Linked DNA regions of Homo sapiens. The protein of the gene in region 1 purifies or fractionates together with the protein of each later gene. This does not show direct contact. Each region holds a gene or a part of one and is shown in the gene's direction. Other genes may lie near its edges.

What was found.
Region 2: the proteins of ELK3 (region 1) and MYH14 purify together in Homo sapiens (affinity purification with mass spectrometry; one large-scale study listed by BioGRID and IntAct). This does not show direct contact.

What each region holds. Positions count from the first base shown.
Region 1 is NC_000012.12:96,246,339-96,250,151, forward strand, and holds part of ELK3 (ETS domain-containing protein Elk-3), read left to right. Parts: intron 1-601; coding exon 602-1,396; intron 1,397-3,813. UniProt on the Homo sapiens protein: May be a negative regulator of transcription, but can activate transcription when coexpressed with Ras, Src or Mos. Forms a ternary complex with the serum response factor and the ETS and SRF motifs of the Fos serum response element.
Region 2 is NC_000019.10:50,276,342-50,280,154, forward strand, and holds part of MYH14 (myosin-14), read left to right. Parts: intron 1-415; coding exon 416-560; intron 561-1,741; coding exon 1,742-1,948; intron 1,949-3,695; coding exon 3,696-3,800; intron 3,801-3,813. UniProt on the Homo sapiens protein: Cellular myosin that appears to play a role in cytokinesis, cell shape, and specialized functions such as secretion and capping.

The sequences.
Region 1 (3,813 bases):
TGAATAATCCCATCCACATAGTAAAGGCTTCATAAATGGCAGCTGTTACTATGTTATTACATAGAATAATCCTCACTCGGCCAAGGTTGGGGGATTGCTTGAGTCCAGGAGTTTGAGACCAGCCTGAGCAACCAAGTGAGATGCTGTCTCCACAAAAAATAAAAATGTAAAAATTAGCAGGGTGTGGTGGCATGTACCTGTAGTCCCAGCCACTCAGGAGGTGGAGGCAGGAGGATTGCTTGAGTCCAGGAGGTTGAGGCTGCAGTGAGCCATGTTCGTGCCACTGCACTCCAGCCTGTGCGACAGAGTGAGACCCTGTCTAAGAAATCATCATCATCATCATCATCTTCCTTACTTTACAGACGAGGAAACTCAAAGTGGCACTTAATTTGCCAAAGATCACAAAGATCTAGTAATGGCAGAACTGGAATGCACATCTAATTCTACTTCCAACTTCATTCCTCCTTCCACTTTTCCTTAGCCAAGAATGTAAATCAGGAACATTTTGGTGCTTCTGCCAGCGACATTTACCATTATCATGAGCTCTTACATGGTTTCTCGGGTGCACTCAGATTTTCAACGTCTACTTTTGTATTTGCAGAACATCATCAAGAAGGTGATCGGGCAGAAGTTTGTGTACAAGTTTGTCTCTTTCCCGGAGATCCTGAAGATGGATCCTCACGCGGTGGAGATCAGCCGGGAGAGCCTTCTGCTGCAGGACAGCGACTGCAAGGCGTCTCCGGAGGGCCGCGAGGCCCACAAACACGGCCTGGCCGCCCTCAGAAGCACGAGCCGCAACGAATACATCCACTCAGGCCTGTACTCGTCCTTCACCATTAATTCCCTGCAGAACCCACCAGACGCCTTCAAGGCCATCAAGACGGAGAAGCTGGAGGAGCCGCCCGAAGACAGCCCCCCCGTGGAAGAAGTCAGGACTGTGATCAGGTTTGTGACCAATAAAACCGACAAGCACGTCACCAGGCCGGTGGTGTCCCTGCCTTCCACGTCAGAGGCTGCGGCGGCGTCCGCCTTCCTGGCCTCGTCCGTCTCGGCCAAGATCTCCTCTTTAATGTTGCCAAACGCTGCCAGTATTTCATCCGCCTCACCCTTCTCATCTCGGTCCCCGTCCCTGTCCCCCAACTCACCCCTCCCTTCTGAACACAGAAGCCTCTTCCTGGAGGCCGCCTGCCATGACTCCGATTCCCTGGAGCCCTTGAACCTGTCATCGGGCTCCAAGACCAAGTCTCCATCTCTTCCCCCAAAGGCCAAAAAACCCAAAGGCTTGGAAATCTCAGCGCCCCCGCTGGTGCTCTCCGGCACCGACATCGGCTCCATCGCCCTCAACAGCCCAGCCCTCCCCTCGGGATCCCTCACCCCAGCCTTCTTCACCGCACAGGTAAGAGTCATTCCTGTCATCTAAGCCACAGCCAGCTTCAGTGGCTTAGCAAAAAAGGAAGAGCAACTAAAGAGACTTCCTTCTGTCCCTCAAAACGTTGTCCTATGACTCGTACCGAGGTCACTGTGTAAATGTGAAGGGAAGCTGCTTTTCCATCCTCAGACCAAGGGGTGCACATGAGACAGGGTTTGGTTTGTCGACTCTAGTGGGATGCTTGATTGGTTTCTTGCTTTTAGCGGCCTAAAGTGACCATAGGTGGAACACGCACACTGGCCGACAAAGCAGATCTCACCAGCGATTTCCAAGGGAAAGTTGAGCGGGCCAGTTTACATTTCGGGAGGCGCTTGGGCTTTATGAAATTTTTATGGCAGAATCTTCTCTGGGGGCGCTTAATAAGGAGCCACTTGTGTTCTGTTAACAAGAAAATAGATGTCAACTGATGCCGCCATCGCATGTCAGTGTGGAGCTGTGGTCATAGCGTAGGTAATAAGAAACAAAGGGGCCACCCCAAACAGCTGCTTCGCTGAAAGCAGCACTACTCTGAGAAAGCCCCAGTCCACAGCACTGGCGAGAGGACAGCAAACTTGCAGAGCCAAAAAAGCCTTCGTTGTTATTAGTCCCAAAGAGAAAGCAGCCTTTTCCTTTAAATCAGATATTCAGATGCTCTTTCTTGTCCAGCTGACAATTGCAGTGCAAAGGCGTAGTAGGTGCTGGGAAACCATATTTCTCCTTCCCCTTGAAAATTGGATGCAATTTTAGTGGCAGAGGTTAAAAGAGTATTCGTTTTAGGTTCACAGACCTGCATTCAGTTCCTGGCTACCCTGCTTCCTAGGAGTGGGACTGTGGGCGGTTGCTCTCTGGGCCAGGTTCCATGTGTGGAAAATGGGACCATGGACAGGCTTTGTGAGCTGGGGACACCTGGTAGCATTGTTAACCGTGGAGCTGCACCCGTCCCCTGCCTCTGTAATCTCATCGTAGTTGTCCCTGTTGTCATTAGCAGCAGCCGCGGCAGCATATGACGGGCTCCCCACGTGTGCCAGGCACTGCTCCAGATGCTTTACATGCATTGCCTGTATCCACACTTACAGCAGCCCTGTCACGTGGATACAGGTTGAGCATCCTGTTTCCAAAATGCTTGTGACCAGAAGCATTTCAGAGTTCAGATGTTTTCAGATTTTGGAATATTTGCATGATACTTGCCAGTTGAATATCCCACATCTGAAAATCTGAAATCCAAAATGTTGCAATGAGCATTTCCTTGGAGTGTCATGTCAGGACTCAGAAAGTTTCAGATTCTGGAGGATTTGGGATTTGGGAATTTTTGGATTTGGGATGCTGAGCCTGTGCTATTATTATCATCCTGTTTCCCAGCTGAGATAAATGAGGCACAGAGGTAAAGTAGTTCGTCCAGGGTCCCACAGCCAATAGGTGGTAGAGGTGGCTTTGGATCCAGTGTCTGCCTCCAGAATCCATGCTCTCAAATGAAATGCATTCCCGCTGCGAGAAGGCAGTGTCCCTGATCACGATGGCCGTCCATGGAGCACCTGAAAGCAGCTCTGGGCCACTGTCCTCTCCACGCTTTCTCTGGACTGGATTCTGCCCAGGATTTCATGACAGCTCAAGCCTGTGAGCTGGTGGTGACGCGCGCCACTGCGGAGGGGGAGGGCCAGGGGATCAGGATATAGGTCAGAGTGAGCACGTGTGCTCTTAAATCAGGCATCTTCCAGTTAAGCAAGGCTGTCCAGTGACCAAGGGCTGCTGAGCAAATGGCTCAGAAACAGCAGCTCCTGATGTAGCTCAGGGGAGTATCTTGAGAGGCAGGGCCAGGGTAGATGATCTGAGCATCTCCTCCCCTGGCCTCCTGTGTGTTTACAACTGTCAGGGTGAGAAAGGTCCGAAGCCAGGCCAGGGCTGACTCTGATTTAGGTGTCTGTGTTCCCTGGGAGCCTGGATCACCTTCTCAGAACAGAGTGAGGCAGATGCCAGCCCTGTCTCAGAGGAAGTCAGCTCAGCCAGCCCTGTGGATAATGTGGATGGAGTGGTGGCTCCCATCGGTGGGGCTGAGGGCGTGAGAGAAGGATCAAGGGTGGATGCCCAACAAATGGATGCAGAGGGCACGACCAGGAGCCAGAAGCCACCAGCATGGCCTGAAACTAGGTGGGAAGGCGTAGGAAAGCCAGGATCTTTACAAGAGGACCTGTGCCTTAGGCAGTGAGGGTGCCTGGTCCTCAGCCAAGCTGTGAGGGTGGGGCTGTGATGATTTAGTGCCAGGAAGCCCAGAAATGGTCCTGAGGGGAGGGAGGCAACAGGCAGCATCTGGACCCAGGGCAGGAGAGTGGAAGTAAAGGGACCTGGCTCAGAGAGGGCCTTCGGGTCAAAGGAGGAGGAGGGGCACCAGGCAGTCCTCTAAACCACGC
Region 2 (3,813 bases), on another chromosome or scaffold:
TGGGTCAAGCTGGGGACAGAGATGGGTCAGACCCAGGTGTTACCCTTGGGAACTTCCAGTCTCAGGGGAGGCAGATTCAGGCAAAGACAATCTCAACCCAGAACAAGGGGTGCTTTAGCGGAGTAACACGGGGCACTGTGGGTGATAAGTGAAGACCCCTAAACCAAGTCTATGGGAGATCCAGGAAGACTTTCCTGAGGAAGGGCCTTTTGGAAAAGGGTTTTGAAAGGTGAATAGGAGTTCACCCTTAAAGCCACACTCCTTCCACAGCATCACCACCCAGATCTCCTGAGGAGCATAACATGAGGCCCTCATATTTTAAGGAAACATGAAAAGGAGAAACAACCAGCTCCCCCAAAGCCCCTGCCTTCCTCTGCTCTGAAATTCCCATCCTCTCTCCTTTCCCCCAATAAAGGTCCAAGAGGGAACAGGAGGTGACGGAGCTGAAGAAGACTCTGGAGGAGGAGACTCGCATCCACGAGGCGGCAGTGCAGGAGCTGAGGCAGCGCCACGGCCAGGCCCTGGGGGAGCTGGCGGAGCAGCTGGAGCAGGCCCGGAGGGTGGGTTGGGGCAGGGGGACAGGGCAGGGGGGCCACGGGGAGGGCAGGGCAGGACGCGGGGTTGGAGGAGGTACCGCTGGCTGGTTCTAGGCTAGCTCATCTCCCTGGGCCCCTTTCCTCACGCATTCATGTGCATCTTTCATTCAGCAAGCATTAATGGGGTGTGGACTATGTTCCAGGAGCATTGCTGGGGAACCAGCCATGAACCCAACAACCAGCACTGCCTTCCCTTGTGGAGCTTTCCTTTTAGTGAGAGAGGCAGAGGGTAAACAATATAAACACTTTCAGTTTATATTGGGGTGATAAGTGCTATGGGGCCATAATGAACAGGAAAAAGGGATCAGAATTCTAAGGCGGGTGAGTTTTTAAGTAGAGAGGCTGTGGAGGTATTCTGCGAGAAGGTGACATCAGGGTAAAAAACTGAGGGAGTGGCCGGGCATGGTGGCTCTTGCCTGTAACTTTGGGAGGCTGAGGCAGGCAGATCACTTGAGGCCAGGAGTTCGAGACCAGCCTGGGCAACATGGTGAAACCCCATCTCTACTAAAAATACAAAAACTAGCTGGGCGTGGTGGCACACACGCCTATAGTCCCAGCTACTTGAGAGGCTGAGGCAGGAGAATCACTTGAACCCAAGAAGCAGAGGTTGAAGTGAGTCAAGATTGTACCATTCCACTCCAGCCTGGGTGACAGAGCAAGACTCTGTCTCAAAAAACAAACAAACAAACAAAAATGGGCCAGACGTGGTGGCTCATGGCTGTAATCCCAGCACTGTGGGAGGCTGAGGTGGGTGGATCACCTGAGGTCAGGAGTTCAAGACCAGCCTGGCCAACATGGCAAAATCCCATCTCTACTAAAAACACAAAAAATTAGCCGGGCGTGGTGGTGGGCGCCTGTAATCCTAGCTACTTGGGAGGCTGAGACAGGAGAATCACTTGAACCTGGGAGGCGGAGGTTGCAGTGAGCAGAGATCGTGCCTTTGCACTCCAGCTTGGGCAACAAGACTGAAGCACTGTCTCAAAAAAAAAAAAAAAATTGGGAGTGAGGGGTGAGCTATTTGTTCACTGGGAGAAGTGTGTTCCAGGCAGAGGGAACAGCCAGTGCAAAGGCCCTGAGATGGGAGTGTGCCTGGCCTGGTCCAGGAAAGGCCTCATAGATCTTTGCTCATCTCCTTCCCACACCAGGGCAAAGGTGCATGGGAGAAGACCCGGCTGGCCCTGGAGGCCGAGGTGTCCGAGCTGCGGGCAGAACTGAGCAGCCTGCAGACTGCACGTCAGGAGGGTGAGCAGCGGAGGCGCCGCCTGGAGTTACAGCTGCAGGAGGTGCAGGGCCGGGCTGGTGATGGGGAGAGGGCACGAGCGGAGGCTGCTGAGAAGCTGCAGCGAGCCCAGGTAAGTGGGGTGGGCAGGGCAGAGGTTTCTGCTGTGTGACCTTGGTGACATGCCTGCCCTCTCTGGGCTTCTATTTGGTCCATATCAAACCAATTGTCTCGTTTGGCTCTTCCAACATAATCATGTACAAGTCTGGGCACAGTGGCTCATGTCTGTAATTCTAGCACTTGGGAGGCCAAGGCAGGAGGATTGCTTGAGCCCAGGAGTTCGAGACCAGCCTGGGCAACATAGTGAGACCCCATCTTCAGAAAAAAAAAAATTTTAATTAGCCAGGTATGCTGGCATGTGCCTGTAGTCCCAGCTACTCAGGGGACTGAGGAAGGAGGATCCCTTGAGCCTGGGAGGTCGAGGCTGCAATGAGCTGTGATTGTGCCACTGCACTCTAGCCTGGGCAACAAAGTGAGATCCTGTCTCAAAATAATAATAATAATACCCAGTACTTTGGGAGGCCGAGGCGGGCAGATCACCTGAAGTCAGAAGTTCGAGACCGGCCTCACCAACATGGAGAAACCCTGTCTCTACTAAAAAAAAAAAAAAAAAAACACAAAATTAGCCGGGCGTGATGGCGCATGCCTGTAATCCCAGCTACTCGAGAGGCTGAGGCAGGAGAATCACTTGAACCCGGGAGGCAGAGGTTGTGATGAGCTGAGACCGCGCCATTGCGTTCCAGCCTGGGCAGCGAGAGTGAAACTCCATCTCCAATAATAATAATAATAATTCACTCATTTAAGATGTGCAATTCAATGGATTTTGGTATATTCACAGAGTGGTATGGCCATCACCATAATCTAATTTTGGACCATTTTCATTATCCCAAAAAGAAAATCCTATACCCTTTAGCTATCATCCCCCACTTCTCCCCCACCCCACCCAGGGAACCACTAATCTCCTTTCTGTCTTTACTGATCTCCCATTCTGGAGATCTTATATAAATGGAATCCTACTATATATGGGTGGCCTTTGTGGCTGCCTTCTTTTACTTAACATAACGGTTTCAAGATTCATCTGTGTTGCAGCTCGTAGCATAATTCCTTTTTTATTTTTTAATTTTTAAAACACCAGCTGGGTGCAGTGGCTCATGCCTGTAATCCCAGCACTTTGGCAGCGGAGGCGGGTGGGTCACCTGAGGTCAGGAGTTCAAGACCAGCTGCCTGACCAACATGGTGAAACTTCGTCTCTACTAAAAATACAAAATTAGCCGGGTGTGGTGGCGCATGCCTGTAATCCTAGCTACTTGGGAGGCTAAGGCAGGAGAATCACTTGCACCTGGGAGGCGGAGGTTGCAGTGAGCCGAGATTGCACCATTGCGCTCTAGCCTGGGCAACAAGAGTGAAACTCTGTCTCAAAAAAACCCCAAAAAACAACAGCACGCAATAGATCCATATACCTTTCTATTGCCGAATAATGCCCGTTGTATGGATATTCCACATTTGTTTATCCATTCGTTTATTGATGGACATTGGGGCTGTTCCCGCCTCTTGGCGATGGTGAGTAATGCCACTGAGAACATTCCGGTACGAGTTTCTGCATAGACCTATGCGTTCATTTCTTTTGGGTATGCACCTAGGAGCGGGATTGTTGGGTCATGTGGGAACCCTATGTTTAAGCATCTGTGGATCTGCCAGACTGTTTTCCACGGCAGCTGTAACATTTCACATTCCTGCCAGTGTGGTAGAGAGTTGAGGCAGATGGGGTCACTGGGTGGAAGCCACGATTGGAGGGCTTCATTCCCGTCCCTTCCCTGCAGGCTGAACTGGAGAATGTGTCTGGGGCGCTGAACGAGGCTGAGTCCAAAACCATCCGTCTTAGCAAGGAGCTGAGCAGCACAGAAGCCCAGCTGCACGATGCCCAGGTGACCCTGCCTG